Homo sapiens: one gene and its partners. The protein of the gene in region 1 interacts with the protein of each later gene in a biochemical or structural test. Each region holds a gene or a part of one and is shown in the gene's direction. Other genes may lie near its edges. The genes, in order: UBR5, PAIP1, NRL, ERG, AKIRIN2, ATF3 and TOPBP1.

What was found.
Region 2: the proteins of UBR5 (region 1) and PAIP1 form a complex in vitro, tested with the Homo sapiens proteins (one study listed by BioGRID).
Region 3: of the proteins of UBR5 (region 1) and NRL, one has a biochemical effect on the other in vitro, tested with the Homo sapiens proteins (one study listed by BioGRID).
Region 4: the proteins of UBR5 (region 1) and ERG form a complex in vitro, tested with the Homo sapiens proteins (one large-scale study listed by BioGRID).
Region 5: of the proteins of UBR5 (region 1) and AKIRIN2, one has a biochemical effect on the other in vitro, tested with the Homo sapiens proteins (one study listed by BioGRID).
Region 6: of the proteins of UBR5 (region 1) and ATF3, one has a biochemical effect on the other in vitro, tested with the Homo sapiens proteins (one study listed by BioGRID).
Region 7: of the proteins of UBR5 (region 1) and TOPBP1, one has a biochemical effect on the other in vitro, tested with the Homo sapiens proteins (one study listed by BioGRID).

What each region holds. Positions count from the first base shown.
Region 1 is NC_000008.11:102,406,201-102,409,700, reverse strand, and holds part of UBR5 (E3 ubiquitin-protein ligase UBR5), read left to right. Parts: intron 1-3,500. UniProt on the Homo sapiens protein: E3 ubiquitin-protein ligase involved in different protein quality control pathways in the cytoplasm and nucleus. Mainly acts as a ubiquitin chain elongator that extends pre-ubiquitinated substrates.
Region 2 is NC_000005.10:43,547,078-43,550,577, reverse strand, and holds part of PAIP1 (polyadenylate-binding protein-interacting protein 1), read left to right. Parts: intron 1-2,664; coding exon 2,665-2,850; intron 2,851-3,500. UniProt on the Homo sapiens protein: Acts as a coactivator in the regulation of translation initiation of poly(A)-containing mRNAs. Its stimulatory activity on translation is mediated via its action on PABPC1. Competes with PAIP2 for binding to PABPC1.
Region 3 is NC_000014.9:24,104,950-24,108,449, reverse strand, and holds part of NRL (neural retina-specific leucine zipper protein), read left to right. Parts: intron 1-3,500. UniProt on the Homo sapiens protein: Acts as a transcriptional activator which regulates the expression of several rod-specific genes, including RHO and PDE6B. Also functions as a transcriptional coactivator, stimulating transcription mediated by the transcription factor CRX and NR2E3.
Region 4 is NC_000021.9:38,400,978-38,404,477, reverse strand, and holds part of ERG (transcriptional regulator ERG), read left to right. Parts: intron 1-768; coding exon 769-972; intron 973-1,840; coding exon 1,841-1,921; intron 1,922-3,500. UniProt on the Homo sapiens protein: Transcriptional regulator. May participate in transcriptional regulation through the recruitment of SETDB1 histone methyltransferase and subsequent modification of local chromatin structure.
Region 5 is NC_000006.12:87,678,234-87,681,733, reverse strand, and holds part of AKIRIN2 (akirin-2), read left to right. Parts: coding exon 1-114; intron 115-3,500. UniProt on the Homo sapiens protein: Molecular adapter that acts as a bridge between a variety of multiprotein complexes, and which is involved in embryonic development, immunity, myogenesis and brain development.
Region 6 is NC_000001.11:212,618,761-212,621,275, forward strand, and holds the end of ATF3 (cyclic AMP-dependent transcription factor ATF-3), read left to right. Parts: intron 1-211; exon of another isoform or gene 212-285; coding exon of another isoform or gene 286-506; exon of another isoform or gene 507-597; coding exon 598-795; 3' UTR 796-2,015; downstream 2,016-2,515.
Region 7 is NC_000003.12:133,651,942-133,655,441, reverse strand, and holds part of TOPBP1 (DNA topoisomerase 2-binding protein 1), read left to right. Parts: coding exon 1-152; intron 153-1,917; coding exon 1,918-2,097; intron 2,098-2,812; coding exon 2,813-2,979; intron 2,980-3,500. UniProt on the Homo sapiens protein: Scaffold protein that acts as a key protein-protein adapter in DNA replication and DNA repair. Composed of multiple BRCT domains, which specifically recognize and bind phosphorylated proteins, bringing proteins together into functional combinations.

The sequences.
Region 1 (3,500 bases):
ATTTTCATCTAAAGATAAAAACTTTACCAAGTTTTAGTAAGTTGGGGCAATAAAAAAGCTACTGCTACTGTAGCTTGACTTTTTTTATTATGAGAAATGTATGAGAGTCACAAATAAAATGATAATCATAGTTATGTATGAAAAGGGTGTAAATAGACTTTATACTTTGGAATAAAAGTAGTAAGATTAGACAGGCAGAATGGTACTGCAAATAAATTGCTCAGCTGAAGAAAACTTGGTCCTCAAAACAGTAGTGTTTTCTTCAAATACGTTTTCTTTCTTTACCCACATCCTCTTAAAAAGTCAAATATTTTGTTCAGCATCATAGTCTGATGTCTCAAGTGTCTAAAATGTACAAAGCATAAAAAAGTATCTTTTTTTCATAATTTGTGTTTTCAGACTTGCCAATAATGAATAATAATGATGCCAGGATGAAATTGACAAATACAGGTGGGGATGGCTGGGGTGGAAAGAAGAGGATGTTGGCTGTGACTTCCCAGAATGATTACAAGGTGCCTGGCACAGAATGCTGGGCCCTCAAGCAAATATTCATTGAGCTGAATTGAAACCATTCAGTGCTCAGATACTTTGGACATTTTGATCTCCTTTCCAATGGATTTCTTGAGTTAGTACTACGTTCCTGCTTAAAACATTGTCTCAGAGAAACAGTAAAACAATATAAAGAATGTGGTTCGTCGAGCTTGAGGGGAGAGCTGAAAGGCCTGCCTCACTAATAGCCTGGAAAGTGCCTCACTAATGAGCTGAAAAAATAGGCACAGAGATTTACAGTGTTTATGCAGGGATACAACTACTGAGAGACAGCTGAGGTCCACCTGATGGGTCTTCTGACTTTTCTTTAAAGTCCAGGGCTCCATTCCACTTCACGTGGCTTGTATTCCAGAATGGTTCTGCTGTCTCAGACATCCCAGCCTTCAGGCAGTGTGGCCACCTGTCTTAGTGTTTTGATTCCGTTTTCCCCTCAACTGCTCTTTCCAGGGCTCCTAATGGGTTTATGCCTTTTTTTCAGAGGCTGACGCTCTTAACCTTTTCTTGGTACTAGGTTAGGATAGGTCTTCTTAAGGTGATGTGGTTATGGCATTTATTGTCCTTGTCCTGAATTATTCCTCAAGATGCAGGTTAGTTACGAAACAAACCAGTTCTTATTGCTTGTCTGTATGTGGAATTTTCCTGTGAGATTTGCCTTTTGGCATTACAACGTATTGTGCAGTCATAAACAGTCTTTATTGAGATTGTCATATCAAAAGGATTTTTCTCTAAGCTTAGAGTTTCCCTTTCAGGTGTCATAACACAAGGTAAGATACTATAGACAGGAGTTTCAAACTCTGCGCTGGTAGCCTAGTCATTTAACCTCTTAGAACCCCCCACATCAATCTCTGAATTAGGTGTAGCACTCTCCTCAAGGTCAGGGAGGAACAGTTGAGACAGTAGATGGGAAAAGATCAATATTATAATGTGGATTCTACGGAAAACATTACGAAGAGATGGTTACTTTTAACTTTTTACGTGTTGCCTGGTTTCCAGATAGCAAAGCAGGAACTCAAAAGAGTTGCCCTAGAATATCCTTAGCATTCAGAGCAGAATCGACTCTTAGTTCTAGATTAGTACTTCTCAGCTTGGTGTGATTTTGCACCCTCCACACACAACCCCCTCCCCTTATTGGGCAGTGTCTGGAGACATTTTTTATTGTCACAGCTGGGGCATTGCTACTGGCCTCTAGTGGATGGAGGCCAGAGATGCTGCTAAACATCCTATAATGCATAGGATAGCCCCCACAACAAAGAATTACGGGGTCCAAAATGTCAGTTGTGCTAAGGTTAAGGAAGCCCATCCTAGATGATCTTCAATGCATTTGGTTGTAAAAATAAGTGAAAATGACTTTTATGAAGAATATTTCAAGCAATATACGTTCTTTTTTTTTTTCTTTTTTGAGACACAGTTTTGCTTTGTCTCCTAGGCTGGAGGCAGTGGCCGGATCTCGGCTCAATGCAACGTCCACCTCCTGGGTTCAAGCGATTCTCCTTCCTCAGCCTCCCAAGTTACAGACGCATACCACTATGTCTGGCTAATTTTTGTATTTTTAGTAGAGATGGGGTTTCGTCATGTTGGCTAGGCTGCTCTTGAACCTAACCTCAGGTGATCCATCTGCCTCAGCCTACCAAAATGCTGGGATTACAGGCATGAGCCAATGTACCTGGCCGCAATATATATTCTTAATTTTTAAAACATGACTGTTTAAATTAAGATTAAGGCCCGGCCAGTGGCTCATGCCTGTAATCCCAGCACTTTGGGTGGCTGAGGCGGGCGAATCACTTGAGGTCAGGAGTTCGAGACCCCTTAGCCTGGCCAACATGGTGAAACCCCATCTCTACTAAAAATACAAAAATTAGCTGGGTGTGGTGGTGGACGCCTGTAATCCCAGCTACTCAAGAGGTTGAGGCAGGAGAATTGCTTGTGCCTGTGAGACAGAGCTTGAGCCCGTGAGGCAGAGGTTGCAGTGAGCCAAGATCGCGCCACTGCACTCCAGCCTGGGCGACAGAGCAAGACTCTGTCTCAAAAAAAAGGAAAAAAAAATTAATTAAGATTGATTAAAATTAAATAAAAATTTAAGTCACTTCATCTGTAGCTAGTCACATTTTAAGTGCACTGTAGTGCCACGTAGCTACTCACTACCACATTGGACAGTGCAAATACAGAGCAGTGCCATCATCACTGAAAGTTCTCTTGGATAGTGTTGGCATAGAAAGTGTGTTTTTGCACAAGTCTTGGCATTCAGTGAGTGCTCATTATGTTTATTAAGAACTTTGAGGTTTTAAAGACTCAGGCATATCTTCACTCAGTAGGAGCCAGAAAATATGCCAGGGATTATATGAAGCATAACAAAGGTTGTGGTGAGTAGAGGTTATAATAGTTGAAAGCTGCTTGAAATTTTATTGTGGTGCACCAAAAAACAAAAAAACAAAAAAATCAATAAAAAAACCCCCCAGACATTAGGTTGTGTGGGATGGAGCATCATATTACCAAATCAGTGAAAAATCTCACCATTTGATTATTGAGATTGTTACCTAAAAGCAATACTAAATGCATTATGCCAGGTGCGGTGGCTCATGCCTGTAATCCCAGCACTTTGGGAGGCTGAGGTGGGCGGATCATCTGAGGTCAGAAGTTTGAGACCAGCCTGGCCAACATGGTGAAACCCCATCTCTACTAAAAATACAAAAATTAGCTGGGCATGGTGGTGCATGCCTGTAGTTGCAGCTACTCAAGAGGCTGAGGCAGGAGAATTGCTTGAACCTGGGAGGTGGAGGTTGCAGTGAGCCAAGATTGCGCCACTGCACTCCAGCTTGGGTGACAGAGCGAGACTCCATCTCAAAAACAAAAACAAAACCAAAAACAAACAATAAAAAACCAATACTAGATTTATTGTATTGGAAAAGTACAGTCTGGCCTAACTAAAATGTTTAAATGAATTTGCTTAAGTA
Region 2 (3,500 bases), on another chromosome or scaffold:
GATGCAGGCAAAGCCCTTATGGTGTCTATCACATATCATATATGCAGCTGGTGGCTATTAGCTTATTAACTGGAGTACCATCCTAGGTGCCAAGAAATACAGCTTTTTATCATTCATTTTGGATGCTTTTTATACTTTAGTCCCTTTATGTATGAATACATGGCTGTTGCATTTGGAATATGACTCAGTATTCTCCTAGAAATTTAAAATGTAATTCATTTGTTGAACATTCTGTGCTTTACTATGTGCTCTTCACCAATCTAGGTGAATTTGATTAATTCACTTAATCCTCAGAGTCACAGTGATAATATTTATGATTAGTAAATAAATGCATCAACATTAATACCTCCTATTATAGTAGAATGTTTAACTTGAATTCAAATGCGTGACAAAAATCTAATGTATTAGAGTTTATCCTTCTATTCAATGAACACTATATGTGAATGAAAAAGGCACATGAATCTGCTATTTCTGCAGCTGGTTTTACTTCCTGACTGCCTCTCATAGTACATGCAACTTTTGCTAAGTATCACTTCAGTCTCTGAAGATACATAGGCCGGGCATGGTGGCTCTCGCCTGTAATCCCAGCGCTTTGGGAGGCCGAGTTGGGTGGATCATTTGAGGTCAGGAGTTTGAGACCATCCTGATCAACATGGTGAAACCCCATCTCCTCTAAAAATACAAAAAAAATTAGCTGGGCCTGGTGGTACATGCCTGTAGTCCCAGCTACTCTGGGAGGCTGAGGCAGGAGAATTGCTTGAACCTGGGAGGCAGAGGTTGCAGTGAGCCAAGATCTTGCCACTGTACTCCAGCCTGGGTGACAGAGCGAGACTCCATCTCAAAAATAAAAATAAAAAATAAAGATAAAATAAAAAGTGTAAAACATGACCTCCAAATGATGGTTATTTGAAGTGGTAGCACTATAGTGGTCCATTTTCATGCTGCTGACAAAGACATACCCGAGACTGGGAAGAAAAAGAGATTTAATTGGACTTACAGTTCCACAAGGCTGGGAAAGCCTCAGAATCATGGCGGGAGGTGAAAGGCACATCTTACGTGGCCGCAGCAAGAGAAAAATGAGGAAGAAGCAAAAGCGGAAACCCCTGATAAACCCATCAGATCTCGTGAGACGTATTCACTATGACAAGAATAGCACCGGAAAGACTGGCCCCATTGATTCAGTTACCTCCCTCCTGGGTCCCTCCCACAACACATGGGAATTCTGGGAGATACAATTCAAGTTGAGATTTAGGTGGGGACACAGCCAAACCATATCAAGCACCAACAGTAAAGGGACAAGTGGACAATTGGCAATGTTGGTCTTTCTCCTAAGACTGTGTCCTGGGCCAGGCGCAGTGGCCTGTAATCCCAGCACTTTGGGAGGCCAAGGTGGGGGAATCACCTGAAGTCAGAGTTTGAGACCAGCCTGGCCAACATGGTGAAACCCTGTCTCTACTAAAAATACAAAAATTAGCCAGGCATGGTGGTGCATGCCTGTAATCCCAGCTACTTGAGAGGCTGAGGTACAGGAATAGCTTGAACCCGGGAGGCGGAGGTTGCAGTGAGCCAAGATTGCACCACTGCACTCCAGCCTGGGCGACAGAACAAGACTGTCTCAAAGAAAAAAAAAGACTGTCTTTCTCCAACATGGAGCATTTCTAAGGGTGTTTTGACCATGTATGACTTTTTTTTTCTTCTATGCACTCACTGACTTTAGAACTTAACCCCTTCACAAAATGCTTCTGTTTTGTAGTCATAACTTTTTTATGTGGCTTTTCATTTACTCTGTTTGGAGAAGGTTAAATTTCATACAAGCAGTGTAGTTATTATTAGATTTTAACTGTTTGGTAAACTTTAAAGCGCTTCGGGTGGTATTCCAGGCATTGAGATGTGAAAGTTGTTGCTCAAGTCTATTATCTTTTGTAAAACTCGCCCACTCAGCCTTCTGCCATTAATGAAAAGGTTGGAAACTGCCAAAGGTGACAGTGGTGGAAACAACATTAGCTGGAAACTACTGCTGCTATCAAGGTTGTGTTAGCAACCTGGATGTAGCAGCCAAAAGGTCTCCTTCCATTTATACCGTGATGAAATTTTAGTTACTCGAGCAGCTTTATGCATTTCTTTGCCCTTGGGGATTAACAGATGATAAACCTTATTAGGTTTTTGTTTTTGTTTTTTTTTTCCCCAATAAAAAAGTTGTCAACATTTGCAGAAATACAGAGAATGGTATAATGAATCCTCATGGCCTCAACAGTAAGCTACATGTGGCCGTTCTTGTTTTTATATCCCTAGTCCATACTTCCCCTCCCACTTTGAAGCAAATCCTAGATCTTATTTCATTCGTAAGTGGATCAGATTCTTAATTTTTATATTGGCATTGTAGTGAAATATTGGTTTAAACTTTATTCCTCAGCCATCTTAGAAGTTGACCCAGAATGAGAAGACAATTCCCTGTTTAGCTGAACAGAACCTTTCTGCTGTTAATTATAACACTTCAGCTTTTAGGCAAGGAAGAAAAATAGCTCAATTGACAATTTTATTGATGAACATAAATTTTTATCATGTGAGGGATCTTTAAAAAAGCATTTGTGCTAGAGACATACCACCTTGTGTGTTTTAGCCAGTTGCATAGATTAAAATTGTTTTTTCATTTTTGATCCGTAGGAATCCTATGAGGATGGTTGTGAGGATTATCCTACTCTATCAGAATATGTTCAGGATTTTTTGAATCATCTTACAGAGCAGCCTGGCAGTTTTGAAACTGAAATTGAACAGTTTGCAGAGACCCTGAATGGTTGTGTTACAACAGATGATGCTTTGCAAGAACTTGTGGAACTCATCTATCAACAGGTATGTTGGCTTATAGCATGCAGTGACCTTCAGATAGCTTCCTTGAAGCCCAAGGATAGTGGCTACTCCTTGAGGGAGACCAGATTCATGATCACCTGCCTCCACACTTACTCTTTATAGTTTCCGGGAGTTCTAAGTCTGTCTTGTATAAAACTCCTATAGTTAGGGATCCAAGGGTAGAGCCAGACAGGATTGCAAGTTCACATGTGTAGTCAAGATTCAATATAGGTAATATTCACCTGTTTAGCCAAAGCTCTATACAAGCAGTATAGTATAGAAGGTGATATGGGCACTGAAAACGAAGGCTACATAAGTGTCACCCCCACCAAAACCCTGCCCCTTGTTTTGCAGGCTCTGAAATTAGCAGTACCAGAAAAGACTGCAATTCTTTTCCCCTATGTGTTGAATTGAATAGTAGTATTAGAGTAGGGGAGGAAAAAAATTGAGAGAATTTGCTTGCCTCATAAGTAGGTCTTTAAAAAAAAGAAAGCCAAACCATAAAATGTCTTGTCTTAGCATTTCTACTTGCCTTTGCTTTCTTTTAAAATTTAAGGATTTCATCTTAATTCCTTGAAAGTCTAATTTAGTCAGTTGAAATTGTTTCATTATACAACATTTAGTTTTTATCCCAGCATATTGGTCATTAACAT
Region 3 (3,500 bases), on another chromosome or scaffold:
AAGAGGATCATTTGAGCCCAGGAATTCAAGGCTGCAGTGAGCTGTGATCACGCTACTGCATTACAGCCTGGGCAACAAAGCAAGACCATGTTTCCAGAAAACCCTTTAGCCCTGATTTTGAATAGAACATGTCAGTATGAGTTCATGAGGTTTTATCTTCTGTCGCTATCCACCAAAAAGATCTAGAAACAATGACCAATCCAGTATCAATGAACACTCCTAGCATCCAGATTGTGGTCTTAAAACGCCATTTCCCCCTGAAAGAAGCCAGAGCTTCTTAGAGAAAAAGCTGATTCCAGGTTTGGGGAAGGAAATGAACACAATGAGCATGGAGCAACTTATACCAGATAGCCGGGAAGCAAGGAGTATGTATCATGTCAAAAGGACTCAGCTCTTTTTGGCCTAGCTTCCATAGCCAAATGTGGGACAATTTGAACATTTAATAAGGTCAATTTAATAAACACTAAGTATGTTTAAATCCATGAGTTCATAATGTTTGTGTGTAACTAACTGGTTACCTTTTCAAAGGATAATAGGAAATCAAATCATTTTTTTGAAGATGATAAATAAAGATAAAGAATTAAGCAGTTATCCTGCTGTTTCTATATAAACAATACCATAGGGTAATGAAATAGAAGTGTCCATTTTATAAAATTATTGCAATGTTATGACAACTCAAATATGGCTGTTTTGCAATCCCTAGTGAGTTAATGCATTTAGACACTGAACATCTGAGTCTGGATTCGTCAATGGGTAAATTGAAGGAAAAGAAAGGAATGGAGGGGGAATCTGTAGACTGATAGAGACTTGAAAGACATATGAAAAAAATTTTAAATGGGAGCAAAGCTAAACTATAGTGTCTAAGGATCTACATTTAGGTGATCAAACTATAAAAAAATGCAAAGAAGTAATTATTACTCACCATAGTATCCACTATGGCAGGAAGGGGTGGCTATGATAGAGATGGGCAACAGGGTCGGGGCGGGGCGGGGCTGGGTTGGTGTCTGCAAAGTTCTGTTTCTTTCCCTGGGTAGTGTTCCAAAGGTGTTCACTTTATGATAGTTTATTCAGCCATAACTTTGTTTTAGATGGTCTTCTGTATCTGTGTTTTATTTTAAAATAAAAAGATTATAATGTGTTAACTATATTTTATCAGTTATCTGGAGCTGAAGGGCATGCAGCCCCATTTTATTCTAATTAATAAAAATAATTTTTAAGGCTAACACTTTCTTGTCCCTGTGCATTTAGAAGATACCAGAAAGGTGCCTGGAACCCCAGTTCCCTGCCTCTTAGCTGGAGGGATTTATTTTTAAATCTATTTTCTTTCTCTCCTAGATTTTATTTACATTGCTCATGTTCCTTTTAAACTGTAGAGTCAGCAATATGTAATATACGCTTACAGGGCCTACTCTAATCATTATAAAGTGGAAAGGTGATGATAGCTAACATGTATTAAATGGTTATTCGGTGCCAGGCATAGTTCTGAGTGCTTTATTCCACTGACTCTTTTAATCTTCCCAACAAGACTGTAAAGTGTAGGCATTTCCATTTTACAGATGAAGCAACTGAGAGGCACCTCTGGCTCAAGTCTACTATGTGTTTAATACCTGTGCTATGTTGCTTTTGACGGTATTCAGTTATCATATGCTATTTATGAAGCTAAGGATTTGGCTGTGTTTTATTATTATTTTTAAATTTTTAAATTTATTTATTTATTTATTTTTTTTTTGAGACAGAGTCTCACTCTGTCGCCTAGGCTGGAGTGCAGTGGTGTGATCTCAGCTCACTGCAACCTCAGCCTCCCAGTTTCAAGTGATTCTCCCGCCTCAGCTTCCTGAGTAGCTGGAATTACAGGCATGGGCCACCATGCCTGGCTAATTTTTGTATTTTTAGTAGAGATGGGGTTTCACCATGTTGGTCTAGCTGGTCTCAAACTGCTGACCTCAGGTGATCTGCCCACCTCGGCCTCCCAAAGTGTGAGCCACCGCGCCTGGCTGGCTGTGTTTTAAAGTACAATATACTCCACTGCTAACTTTGTTCTAACCTCTGTTCCACTCTGACCTTTAGATTTTTACACATTCTGGCTGGTCACTGGCATTTCCTATGAGAACACTTGGTGTTTCCTCTTCTAGTTTTTTCCTTTGAGGGAGTTCCCAATAATTCCATTTTATTTGTTGAAGTTTGTTCCCTTTTTCTGGGTAAAGACTACCACACTACCCACCTTAGGTTATACATTCTCTCAGCCTGATCCAGATTGCACAGAAGTTATCCTAAGCTGATGCCCCTGACTCATGTGAGATCATTGCACTGTTTTCCTGATTACTCTCCAAAGTTTATTTCAGATGAATTTAGGCTACTCTAAACTGTAGTTCGCAGACCGGCAGCATCAGCATTACCCAGGAGCTTGTAAGGAAAACAAAATCTTGAGGCTACTACAGACTTGCTGAGTGACAATCTGCATTTTAACAAGATCTCCAGGTGATTCAAAGGCACTTTTAAGTTTGAGAAACACGGAATAGGTGACTTTTTATTTTTTTATTTTTTTGAGACAGAGTCTTGCTCTGTCCCCCAGGCTGGAGTGCAATGGCATGATCTAGGCTTACTGCAACCTCTGCCTCCTGAGTTCAAGTGATTGTCCTAAATAGCTGGGATTACAGGCACCTGCCATCATGCCCAGCTAATTTTTGTATTTTTGTAGAGAAGGGGTTTCACCGTGTTGGCCACGCTGGTCTTGAACTCCCAACCTCAGGTGATCCGCCCTCCTTGGCCTCCCAAAGTGCTGGGATTATAGGCATGAGCCACTGCGCCCGGTGGAATAGGTGACTTCTAAGGTCCTTGCAGTTGTAGATGTCTATACTACTATGAAAGACATGTCTTTGCAGTTTTATCACTTTAACCCTTAGCTCTATTGTTTACTAACTGTGAAGCTTTGGACAAATTACTTGACCTCTCTGTGCCTTTGTTACTTCATCTGTAAAATGGTAATTCCCCCAAAGGGTTGTTAGGTATGTGCTTAGAACACTGCCTTGTTGGGAATAGGCCCCCAAAATCTGGCCATAAACTGGCCCCAAAACTGGCCATAAGCAAAATCTCTGCAGCACTGTGACATGTTTGTGATGGCCATGACACCCACACTGGAAGGTTGTGGGTTCACCGGAATGAGGGCAAGGAACACATGGCCCACCCTGGGCAGAAAACCGCTTAAAGGTATTCTTAAACCATAAACAATAGCATGAGCGATCTGTGCCTTAAGGACATGCTCCTGCTGCAGATAACCAGCCAGAGCCCATCTCTTCATTTTGGCCCATCCCTTTGTTTCCCGTAAGGAATACTTTTAGTTAATCTATAAAAACAATGCTTATCACTGACTTGCTGTCAATAAACACGTGGGTAAATCTCTGTTCGAGGCTGTCAGCTCTGAAGGCTGTGAGACCCCTGATTTCCCACTCCACACCTCTATATTTCTGTGTGCGTGTTTTTAATTCCTCTAGCACTGCTGG
Region 4 (3,500 bases), on another chromosome or scaffold:
TCCCCCGGGCCCTGCTCTCCCTGTCCCATAGGTAGCACTGGAGTGTGACGACGTGGCCTGCATCCTGTGGGGTGTTTGTGCTCGCCATGGCCAGCTGTGGAATGCAAAAACCACTCACCAACCCCACTCCTGCAGGTGCTGGTTAATTGCAAAACCAAACACCCTGCAGGAAAAGTCTGGAACTGACAGCTCTCTATGAGGAACGCTGGCTCATAGGAGGGGCTAGAGTCTTGGTGTATCTATATTTCATTTCCGATTCTGTGGTCAGTATTTTTCAGTATTTTGCATAAATACTGTTATTATTATTTTTGTTGTTGTTGTGATCTGTAATTAGCACCTTCCTGATATGTGTGGCTTACTCTTATTTCCATATAAATATATATAAATATACCAGTAGTTTTCTAAGGAAAAGAAGTTTCCTCTTATTCTTACTCATTTTAAAATAAATAAATAAAATTGAACATAAATGAGAAAAAAGAATTTTTAAAATCTTATGCCTACAGGAAACTTTAGATTGAGCAAAAACAAGGGCATGTGATGTGAATAATCCCAAGATTCCAGAACTATTCACTTTAAAGACAATGATCTATGGATGTGAGGCAGCTTTTGTCTTTCCCCCAAAATGTTCTCCTGGGTAGCCAGGGAGGCTGGCTGGAGGCTGTGCTTGTGGAAGGCAGCTGGTCAGAAATCCCACGTGGATGGGGATCTACCCCAAGATGAAGATCCCTGGCTTCAGGAATTGACTGAATGTGTTCCCACCCCTTTCAGATCCTACGCTATGGAGTACAGACCATGTGCGGCAGTGGCTGGAGTGGGCGGTGAAAGAATATGGCCTTCCAGACGTCAACATCTTGTTATTCCAGAACATCGATGGGAAGGAACTGTGCAAGATGACCAAGGACGACTTCCAGAGGCTCACCCCCAGCTACAACGCCGACATCCTTCTCTCACATCTCCACTACCTCAGAGAGAGTAAGCTCCCCCTTCCTCCAAGGATAGATGGCTGTGGCTATGGTTCTTATGACCTGAGCTTCAGAGGGTTCAACCAGGTGTGTCGACAGCATCCTCCTGCCCTCGCCCAGTTCCCACTGGGGATCCGAGGGAGCCACATGCTTGGTATGTGATGACTTAGGGGAGCAACACCCTGGCCACATCACCTGATGAGAAGTAGTCAGCGCTCTCAGGAGAAGCCAAAATTCACTTCAACACTCAGCTGCCTCCTCCAGGGTCCTGCGACCAAGAAGATGGAATGTCAAAGGGGAAAGGAAGCGTTAACTGGTCACACATTAGTTAAGTCTCCATGATACCCCGAATCGAAATAGAATCATTAAGGCTTCTCTTTCGTAGGAATTAGGGGGATTATTCTCCCTAAAGCTACATGAAGCCCCACTTTATATTCTAACCTGAGCACAGAACAAGGGAAGTTTTCACTTTGTATCATGTGATTCGGCTTAACCTGACAGAAAGGGATGGCATGTTGGCATGAATCCAGAATGTTTGCTGCATGCTTTAATTTCTACAACGTCCAGCATGGTGAGAAGGAAGTAGTGTGACAGACAGTGAGGTGGATAAATTCTCCTCCATTGCTTTGCCTGGCATCCCAACCACTTCTTCCCTGAATTAAAGACGGGCCCCCATGTAGGTTTTAACATGCTAACAAGTAGCAGGTTGCTGGAAATAGTTATAAGCTTCCCATGATGTTAGTGTGGGAGTGGGGGAACGGTTTTCTTTCTTTCTTTTTCTTTCTTTTTTTTTTTTTTTTTTTGTAAGAAAGGTAATTCTCTTTCTCTCTCTCTCTTTTTTTTTTCATTTTGATGTCGCTTTTTGTTTTGTTTTGTAGCTCCTCTTCCACATTTGACTTCAGATGATGTTGATAAAGCCTTACAAAACTCTCCACGGTTAATGCATGCTAGAAACACAGGTAATGCTGGCCCCGCCCCTGCCTCCCAGCAAGAGCGTAGGGTCTTACGTACAGGTTGCATGCTTTCATGGGAAACCAGTCAGCGCGTGCCAGGAAGACAGAACGCAGGTAGATGATTCAGAATACTTTCGGATACTTAGGAATGTACCACAGCCTAAAGGAAGGTGAAGCCCTTTGGTTTTCTGAGCGCTTCCCAAGCACCCCACTTTGATTATCAAAGGGTTCCTTTTTAACCAGGAGACGTGCAGAATTTGCCTTTAGCCATAACTTAGCTCACATTTGCCGGATTACAGTCTTCTTCTGTTGGTCCCAATATATTCGCTGTGCTGACTCTGTAGACACTAAAAGCATGTTCGATATAAAAGGGCCCTTAGCAACCTCCTTTAATTTTTTCCATTTTTATTCTTAAAGAAATATTTGCTAGGATAAGTTGGAATTTTCTTTTTCCTTTCCAATAAACTTTTAGGCTATTTGATTTGTTTTCCTACAGACTTTGTATGTTTGCAAAAGGCAGGAGGGAATTTCTGTAACATTTTGAGAGCTTTTGTTCAGAGGGAACCTCTGCTATAATTTTGGAGAATATGAAATTAGTCACTAACCAAATGCCTGTTTTCTATCTCTAACCGTTGCCTCTACATTTGACTTAGTTATGTATTTATTTTGCCTGAGCCTAAGTAGGGTTTAACACCGTGCCTCATCCTGGCTAACCTTCCTCCCTCGCCCCCCGCTCACAGCAGAGGCTGGGTTTTCTGTGGATGAATGTGTTCCTGGTTCACATCCATCTGCTCCTTCCTGATGGAGAGAGTTCCGGAAGCATGGCCACCGGCTGCTCACCCCACTCTGTTAGCTGCAGGGACCCTCCACAATCACTCGGGCTAGGGAGGGAGACGGGAAGTGCCAGAAAGCCTTGCAAGTCAGCCAGTTAACTCACGATCAGCCCTCACATAGAAATACGCAATTTTCCCAATATTTACCATTTTATTTTAAAATATAAAATGTGAGTGAGTCCCGGTTTGAGTATTACAATGAAATTGCTCATTTATCATGGTCTTCTATATTCAACACATTGTCTTTTTAATCTGAAGTTTTAAAAAACCTGCTTCGAGTTGGTAGTACACTTTTTCAATAATTTTGGTTGCACACATCAGCCTATTAGTGACCTTGTGGCCAGAAATAACAGATAACTTAGAGGAAGTTACTTCCCCTTCTTAGGAAACACCTTTGAGCTATGCACATTTTCTGATAATTTCACATTTATTTATGAGTTCTTTAACCATTGAGTGAAAGTTTCAAAAAAGCTCCAAATATATTAAATTTTGCTATTGTTAAACACGGAAGAAACCAATGAACAAGACAACAAATTCCAAATGGACTGAACTATGAAAAGGGAATTTTCTCAGCTAACAGCATGAGTTTTGGTCAAAAGAGAGAGAGGGAAAATGCATTTGAATAGAGATGTGGATTAATTATTAATAAAATCCATATACTCTTAGGCTAAATACTTATAATTGCTTGATACTACTTTCCAAAAGCTCTGTAAAATATATTATGGGTTTTTATACAAGTTGAAAAATAAAAC
Region 5 (3,500 bases), on another chromosome or scaffold:
ATAAACGAATGCAGAAGAGAAGACATTTAGAAACGAGTTTCCAACAGACAGATCCGTGTTGTACTTCTGATGCACAGCCACATGCATTTCTCCTCAGTGGACCAGCTTCACCAGGTAATAACATTTCTTGTCATTTACAAAGTTTATTATTTAGAGTGGGAAAAGTCTAATCCAAGTTGTCTTTAGTCATTTAAGCTACTGTATCTCCTCTGAGTTTTAAAAAAACATTTATACAAGTAATGCATGACATCTTAAAAAATAATATGGTACAAAATAAGGAGTTACCACTGGATTCCCACTAACCAGAGACAACCACCTGCATATAATATCCCCAAAGTGGACATCCTGTAAGTACTATGATTTGTAGCCTTTATTAAAAAAAATTAACAATAGGCCAGGCACGGTGGCTCATGCCTGTAATCCCAGCACTTGGGGAGGCCGAGCGAGGTAGACAGGTCACTTGAGGTCAGGAGTTTGAGACCAGCCTGGCCAACATGGCAAAACTCTGTCTCTACTGAAAATAGAAAAATTAGCTGGGCGTGGTGGCACGCGCCTGTAGTCCCAGCCCCTCGGGAGCCTGAGGCATGAGAATCACTTGAACCCAGGAGGCGGAGGTTGCAGTGAGCTGAGATCATGCCACTGCACTCCAGCTTGGGCGACAGAGTGAGACTTTGTCTCAAAAAAAAAAATAATAACAATACTGTATGCTCCTTTGTTAGGTATAGATGTACCTTGTCATGACTGAACACTTAATGATAGATAATTCAACTTAGAAGTTTTGCTGGTATAGTATTTTAAGAACTATCCCTGTATACATACCCTGCCTCACACACTTGTCTTATTGGGCTAGATTTCTAAAGGTGGATTATTATTATTTTTTGATCCTGTATCTGTTTTTACCTACTTTTTGTTGGGGGGAATGTTTGCAAATAACCTTCCTTTTTTTTAAAAAAAAAAAAAAGGGGGGGGGCGGGGAATAAGGGCTACTTGAAGCAAAGAGAAAGTTGAAGGTTTTGCTGAGAGAGAGCCATCAATAGTGGCTCTTATCTTTAGTAAAGTTCTCAGGAAAATAGCTTTTCTTGTGACAACAGTTGCCTTTGTTCAACGCTTTCTCTCCTCCCCCTAGCAAGGGAAGGAAAACCTGGCAGAATAAAAAAATTTGCGGCTGGGCGCGGTGGCTCATGCCTGTAATCCCAGCACTTTGGGAGGCCAAGGCAGGTTTATCACGAGGTCAGGATATCGAGAACATCCTGGCTAACACAGTGAAACCCCGTCTCTACTAAAATCCAAAAAATTAGCTAGGCATGGTGGCAGGCGCCTGTAGTCTCAGCTACTGAGGTAGGAGAATGGCATGAACCCGGGAGGCAGAGCTTGCAGTGAGCAGAGATCGCGCCATTGCACTCCAACCTGGGTGACAGAATGAGACTCAAAAAAAAAAAAAAAAAAAAAATCAAAGACCATAACATAGTCAAATAAAATTAGATTAGGAAACATGAACTTGTTCAAAACTAAATACTGCCATGCCCATTGTGGGGGCCAGGTATTAGTGGTTGAAACATAGAGGTGAGGGTTGGGCACTAGACTGTATTAGCAGGAAACCAAGATCATTATTTCCTTACTCACTTTACTTAGAAGATCAGTTAACTGGCAGTCTTAAGTAACAAAGCTGGGAATGTGAAAGTAAATTAAGATGGCTTTGGATAATTATGGAATAAAGCTGGTGGGCTTTGTTATTGTGGTATGCACAGTTCTAATAAGCATAGTTAACTAGCTCCTGCCATGCAGGTTATAAGGAGCAAGTTAAGAGAGTAAGTAATATTGGTGGTACCAGGGCAAATTCACAGAGCGAGATGAAGAAACAATTGGTAACGAATGGTGCACTTGAATATGTATAAAATACTTTTAGCAGTATTACAGTAGATGTTATTACTACAAAATATTTTCTCTTTTATTAAAAATATCCTAATAGGTATAAAAATGCTGAAGGAATATTTGAAATTGACAGATGCTGATGTTGCAGCTGCTTTGGGATTCTTAGTGTGATGACAGTGTAGTTCTATGGTATAGAGTTTTGAGCATAGCATTATCAGCTCAATGCTTGAGCTTATTTTTCCATGCGAATTGTTGTTAACTTAATGGGAATTAGTGGTCAATGAGTTCAAAAACCTTTAGAATCATTTATGCTTCTCCAGCAAAGTAGATTTCAGAATGTCTTGTTTTGTTTTGTTTTGTTTTTGAGACAGGGTCTCACTCCGTTGCCCAGGCTGGAGTACAGTGGTGAGATCTTGGCTCACTGCAACCTCCACCTCAGCCTAGCCTGTAGCTAGAACTACAGGCACGTGCCACCACTCCCAGCCAATCTTTGTATTTTTATTAGAGACATGGTTTGCCATGTTGCGCAGGCTGGCCTTTAGCTCAAGGGTTCCACCTGCTTCGGCCTCCCAGAAAGTACTGGGATTACAGGTATGAGCCACCACACAAGCTAGGTTCCAGAATGTTTTTTAATCTTTTCTAAAAAGGATTCATGCTGTACCTTCTTTTTTTAAACATAAAAATTTATTGTGCCAACATGAAATTTCTTTTTTTTTTTTTTTTTCTGAGATGAAGTTTCACTCTTGTTGCCTAGGCTGGAGTGCAACGGCATGATCTCGGCTCACTGCAACCTCCGCCTCCTGTGTTCAAGCGATTCTCCTGCCTCAGCCTCCTAAGTAGCTGGGATTACAGGCATGTGCCACCACGCCTGGCTAATTTTGTATTTTTAGTAGAGACTAAGTTTCTCCATGTTGGTCAGGCTGGTCTTGAACTTCTGACCTCAGGTGATCCGCCTGCCTCGGCCTCCCAAAGTGCTGGTAATACAGGCGTGAGCCACCATGCCCGGCGTATTTTCTTTTTCAATAAAGGAAAACCCCTTTCTAAAGGTGTGAAATGATGGTAGAATAATTACCAGTTCATTGTGTGTAGGCTCTTAAGATATTAATGGTATGGCTTTGAAGACTAAGTGTCTTTTTACAGGCATAATGATTTGTTATTCTGGGACTAAATAAAATTAAATTTAGACCTGAGGTGTTCTTCATTCCTAGTGTAGGAAAGTAATTTAGTCACTAAAATACTTCATGGTATGGTATTTTCCAGAAAGGAGATAAGATGTTTTGTAATGGGACCCATCATTGTAATGTTTAAGTTTTATGTCTTTTTTAAATTTAATTTTTAATTTTTTGTTTTTATTTTTTTGAGATGGAGTTTCACTCTCTTTGCCCAGGCTGGAGTGCAATGGCGTGATCTCGGCTCACTGAAACCTCCGCCTCCCGGGTTCAAGTGATTCTCCTGCCTCAGCCTCCCGAGTAGCTGGGATTACAGGTGCCCGCCACCATGCCTGGCTAATTTTTTTATGTATTTTTAGTAGAGGCAGGGTTTCACCATGTTGGCCAGGCTGGTTTCAAACTCCTGACCTCAGGTGATCCGCCCACCTCGGCCTGATTACAGGCGGTGAGCACCACGCC
Region 6 (2,515 bases), on another chromosome or scaffold:
GAGAGACACTAGGGGAAATAGCTTTTGTGGGCAAGCAGGGTGGCCGGTGGTGCTCAGCAGTCTTTCCAGTGGCTGTGTCCCTCCTCCAAATGTGGACAGGCCATGACAGAGTCTTAGCCCAAGTCCCACAGATCCCCAAAAGTTCTGTTGATTGCTTCAGGGGATCAGTGAAAATTAGGGAATTTTGTGTGTTGCTATATACATTTTTTCTGGGGAGATGAGCTTCTCATTGAGATCTGTGACTCAGAATCGACTAAGCCACCATAAGTCTGGATTTCTCCCCAGCTCCCAAGGCCCTTTTGGGTCCAGAAGACCTGCATATGGGCTGTTGACTCATGCAAATGAGGTATCTGAACTGCAGCTTCAGTATTAGCAGAGCCACAGGCCGCCTCTGTGGCATCACCAGGGTTTCTCTGAAGAAGAGGGTCTGCATTTTCCTAAACCCAGTGCTGCTCTCCCATCTCCCATCTTCCTCTCGCAGCTTGATGAGCCCCGGTGTGTCCCAGGTACACCCCTGCATCCAGGCAGCAGCCCAGGCCACCCCCTCCTCACTGGCCCTTGGCTCCTTTCTTGATGCCTCTGTTGCTTGTCCCCCAGGAGTCGGAGAAGCTGGAAAGTGTGAATGCTGAACTGAAGGCTCAGATTGAGGAGCTCAAGAACGAGAAGCAGCATTTGATATACATGCTCAACCTTCATCGGCCCACGTGTATTGTCCGGGCTCAGAATGGGAGGACTCCAGAAGATGAGAGAAACCTCTTTATCCAACAGATAAAAGAAGGAACATTGCAGAGCTAAGCAGTCGTGGTATGGGGGCGACTGGGGAGTCCTCATTGAATCCTCATTTTATACCCAAAACCCTGAAGCCATTGGAGAGCTGTCTTCCTGTGTACCTCTAGAATCCCAGCAGCAGAGAACCATCAAGGCGGGAGGGCCTGCAGTGATTCAGCAGGCCCTTCCCATTCTGCCCCAGAGTGGGTCTTGGACCAGGGCAAGTGCATCTTTGCCTCAACTCCAGGATTTAGGCCTTAACACACTGGCCATTCTTATGTTCCAGATGGCCCCCAGCTGGTGTCCTGCCCGCCTTTCATCTGGATTCTACAAAAAACCAGGATGCCCACCGTTAGGATTCAGGCAGCAGTGTCTGTACCTCGGGTGGGAGGGATGGGGCCATCTCCTTCACCGTGGCTACCATTGTCACTCGTAGGGGATGTGGAGTGAGAACAGCATTTAGTGAAGTTGTGCAACGGCCAGGGTTGTGCTTTCTAGCAAATATGCTGTTATGTCCAGAAATTGTGTGTGCAAGAAAACTAGGCAATGTACTCTTCCGATGTTTGTGTCACACAACACTGATGTGACTTTTATATGCTTTTTCTCAGATCTGGTTTCTAAGAGTTTTGGGGGGCGGGGCTGTCACCACGTGCAGTATCTCAAGATATTCAGGTGGCCAGAAGAGCTTGTCAGCAAGAGGAGGACAGAATTCTCCCAGCGTTAACACAAAATCCATGGGCAGTATGATGGCAGGTCCTCTGTTGCAAACTCAGTTCCAAAGTCACAGGAAGAAAGCAGAAAGTTCAACTTCCAAAGGGTTAGGACTCTCCACTCAATGTCTTAGGTCAGGAGTTGTGTCTAGGCTGGAAGAGCCAAAGAATATTCCATTTTCCTTTCCTTGTGGTTGAAAACCACAGTCAGTGGAGAGATGTTTGGAAACCACAGTCAGTGGAGCCTGGGTGGTACCCAGGCTTTAGCATTATTGGATGTCAATAGCATTGTTTTTGTCATGTAGCTGTTTTAAGAAATCTGGCCCAGGGTGTTTGCAGCTGTGAGAAGTCACTCACACTGGCCACAAGGACGCTGGCTACTGTCTATTAAAATTCTGATGTTTCTGTGAAATTCTCAGAGTGTTTAATTGTACTCAATGGTATCATTACAATTTTCTGTAAGAGAAAATATTACTTATTTATCCTAGTATTCCTAACCTGTCAGAATAATAAATATTGGAACCAAGACATGGTAAACATGTGTTGTGCTGGTTTCTGTTCATTTAAATCTGTCGGTTGCTGAGACCTAGCGATTCCCTGCCTTTCCCTCCCCATTATGGGGGGTGCCTAGCTTTAAACTTCTCCAGATGTCATCCTTTGCTCTTTGGGGCATCACTAGATGGGATAGTTGGCTTTCAGTCCTGTTCCTCAGTCTTGGGCACCTGATGCTCAATTTTTCATTGACAAACCCTGAAACATGGCACCAAATATATCCTTTAGATCAACAGTTTGGTGTTTAGAATTTTGATGTACAACTGAATTGCTAGATACCTTAATTATTTTCTCTGAATGTACAAACACCTAAAACATACACCTGTTGTTCAGCTTGAACCTTTGACCCCTAACATTCTGCCACAGAACTCGTCTCAGAGAGTTACTCACTTGAGTTACATCTGTTTCATGTCTAAACGTGTGTCTCATTGTTGCAAATACATATCAGAAAAGAATGGGAAGGGGTACCGGAGGAAGAAAGAACC
Region 7 (3,500 bases), on another chromosome or scaffold:
TCCTATTTTTCTTGGTTGCATAATCTGTGTGACTGGCTTATGTGGCTTAGACAGGAAAGAAGTTCAGCAACTCACAGTTAAGCATGGAGGTCAATACATGGGACAATTGAAAATGAATGAATGTACACACCTCATTGTGCAAGAACCAAAAGGTAAAACTGTGTTTCACAAAGGGACAAATGAAACATTTTCTCTAGTATTTAATATTTTATTTTTATTTATTTATTTATTTATTTTGAGACAGAGTCTTGCTCTATTGCCCAGGCTGGAGGGCAGTGGCACAATCTCAGCTCACTGCAACCTCTGCCTCCCTTGATCAAGCGATTCTCCCAACTCAGCTTCCCGAGTAGCGGGATTACAGGCACCTGCCACCACGCCTGAATAACTTTTTATTTTTAGTAGAGACGGGCTTTCACCATGTTGGCCAGACTGGTCTCTAACTGACCTCAATTGATCTTCCCACCTCAACCTCCCAAAGTCCTGGGATTACAGGCATGAGCCACCGTGCCCAGCCACTAATATTTAATATTTTAAAATCTTTACAGAACAGCTTTTACTTCTGACATGTCATTAATCTAGTTTGATACTGTTTTCTCTAACATCTTGCAAAGATGTTTTCTCTAACATCTTGCAAAGTTTTAACTGGAAGACACACCTTGCGGCACATGAGGCAGTAAAAAATGAAAAAGACATTACGAACAAGAAAAATTCTTTAAAATTGCTATTAAGTTTGGTGTTACATAACATTATTCTGGATAATTTTTTATCAGCACTCTTAAAATATACACAAATTGATAAAAGATGAGTTTTGTTAATGTTTTTATTATTGCCCTTTATATGTATACTGTGTTTTACTAAGCTATCTAGATTGAGAAGAAATTACGATTAAATGGTAATTGTCCTTAAGTCAGAACTTTGAGTATGGCTGATTGTGATAGGATCACTGTGAGTAGAGTTGATACTGCTGTTCTTTTTCTGAATCTGAAGACAGTTCATTGTTGATTCTCTCAAGAATGCCAAAAAACCTTTCATGTGACATATTGACCTCAATTCCTCTGTGATACTGCTTCAAAATACATTGTGTTGAAGATTTTTAAGGTAATAAAAGATACATATTTTCAATATAATTTATCTTTTGGCTTATCTATCCTGGACTTTAAGTAGAAGCCTGTTGACATTGGAATAGTCTGTTCAAAGTTGGGATTTATTATATAGCACAAATTTACAATTTTCACATTGTACAAGCTGGTTTAAAGAAATTAAGTGATGGAGCCTATATGCAAACCCAAGTCCAATATTAATTAAGTTACCCCACAGTTGCTTCTGTCTTCCTGCAGTTTGTATAAAAGATAAAACCTCTCACATGGCATATGTATTTATACTACACATAGAAAATATAATTAGGCAATAAGCTAAAATACTACTTTGTAATAAACTGTGTAGCATACTGTTTAAGAGTAAGTACTGGTAACTTTAATTTTGTTGATAGGTTTTTGAAATAACCTGTTATAGCCGGGCGCGGTTGCTCACGCTTGTAATCCCAGCATTTTGGGAGGCCAAGGCAGGCGAATCACCTGAGGTCAGGAGTTTGAGACCAGCCTAGCCAACATGGTGAAACCCCGTGTCTACTAAAAATACAAAAAAATTAGCCAGACATGGTGGCACACGTCTGTAATCCTAGCTATTCAGGAGGCTGAGGCAGGAGAATCGCTTGATCAGGAGGGAGGTGGAGGTTGCAGTGAGCCAAGATCTCACCACTGTACTCCAGCCTGGGCAACAGAGTGAGACTCCATCTCAAAAAAAAAAAAAAAATATTAACCTGTTATAATTTGAATATTTCTGCAAAGATAGATTGTAATGGTTTTCATTTCTTGGTTTCTCCTATTTTCTCTATTTCTTTCTTAATGAACGCCACAGGTCAGAAGTATGAGTGTGCCAAGAGATGGAATGTACACTGTGTGACCACACAGTGGTTTTTTGACAGTATTGAGAAAGGTTTTTGTCAGGATGAATCCATATACAAGACAGAACCTAGACCAGAAGCAAAGACTATGCCCAATTCTTCAACTCCTACCAGCCAGATCAACACAATTGATAGTGAGTCTCATTGAGATTAAAATAATTATTCTGAAGACAGTCATATTTCTATGTAATAATCAGTATGTTAATAGGATCACTGAGATAGGGAATTTCTTTTTCTTGTTTGCTGTGCTTCTAGGCATAATTGTATAATAGTCAAATTGTATAAAAAGTTAGCACTGAACTGTTCGTAATTTTCTTTTAGAATGAATGAATGCTGTCTTTTATACTCTGTTGTAATGCAAAAGATGATCAAAGAAATTAAGAACAATGGTAGCTGGGGGCTTAAGATAAAAGTATTAATCTTTTAAACATTACATGCATATATTAATCTTTCCTTAATTTACAGTTTTGCTGCAGTTATAGATCATCTGTATTTGTATAAAAATTAAAACCATTTCTATTTTGTAGGTGTCGTGTTGGCAAAATGTTTAAAATATTTTTTCAAATGTAAGCTTCTTGGACCTTAAAGTCAGCAACTTCAGATTTTTATGGGAAACAAGACACTATTAAGAAAATGTGTTAAATCTATTTTCATTTAAATAAGATAGGAGGCTTAATTAATTTCATTTTCCCTTTTTATACTTTGCCACTAAGATTTCAGTAAACACCCCTGAATCTTACTTTGGAAGTTGTTTATTGCCCTATATTTGTAAGAAAAGTTAATCCATAGACAATATGTAATCATGATTATTTTATCTCCCATAAATTTATACGTTTTCAAAATATGTAGGTCGTACTCTTTCAGATGTCAGCAATATTTCCAACATAAATGCAAGTTGCGTAAGTGAATCAATATGTAATTCACTTAACAGCAAACTGGAGCCTACACTTGAAAATCTAGAAAATCTGGATGTCAGTGCATTTCAAGCACCTGAAGATTTATTAGATGGTTGTCGGGTACGTCTTTATTATATAATACATGCAGTAGATGATATACATTAGCATTTCCTAGCCTGACTTTGAAGACCCTTCAGAGTTGGGCTTGCTCCTTACTATCTATGTAAACCCTCCACTCTAGCTAAGTAGATGCACTTACTAGACCATGTCCATCCTTTGGCTGCGAGAGTCCCTCTGCCTGCAAGGTATCTTCCTCTGTTATCTTTTAAAAGTTCATTTCAGGTTTTAACTCTTCTCTGAACCCTCCTAACTACATTAATCTTTTCATCTGCTATATTTCGAGAGCACTTAGTTTCTGAACAACTTATTGGATTTTTTTTTTTTAATTTTTTTGAGTTAGGGTCTCACTCTGTTGCCCAGGCTGGGATGCAGTGGCACAATCATAACTTCCTGTAACCTTGAACTCCTGGGCATCAGCCACCCCTCAGTCTCCCGAGCAGTTAGAACTACAGGCATGTGCCACTACACCTGGCTAATTTTTAAAATTTTTTTGTAGAGACAAGGTCTCACTATGTTGCCCA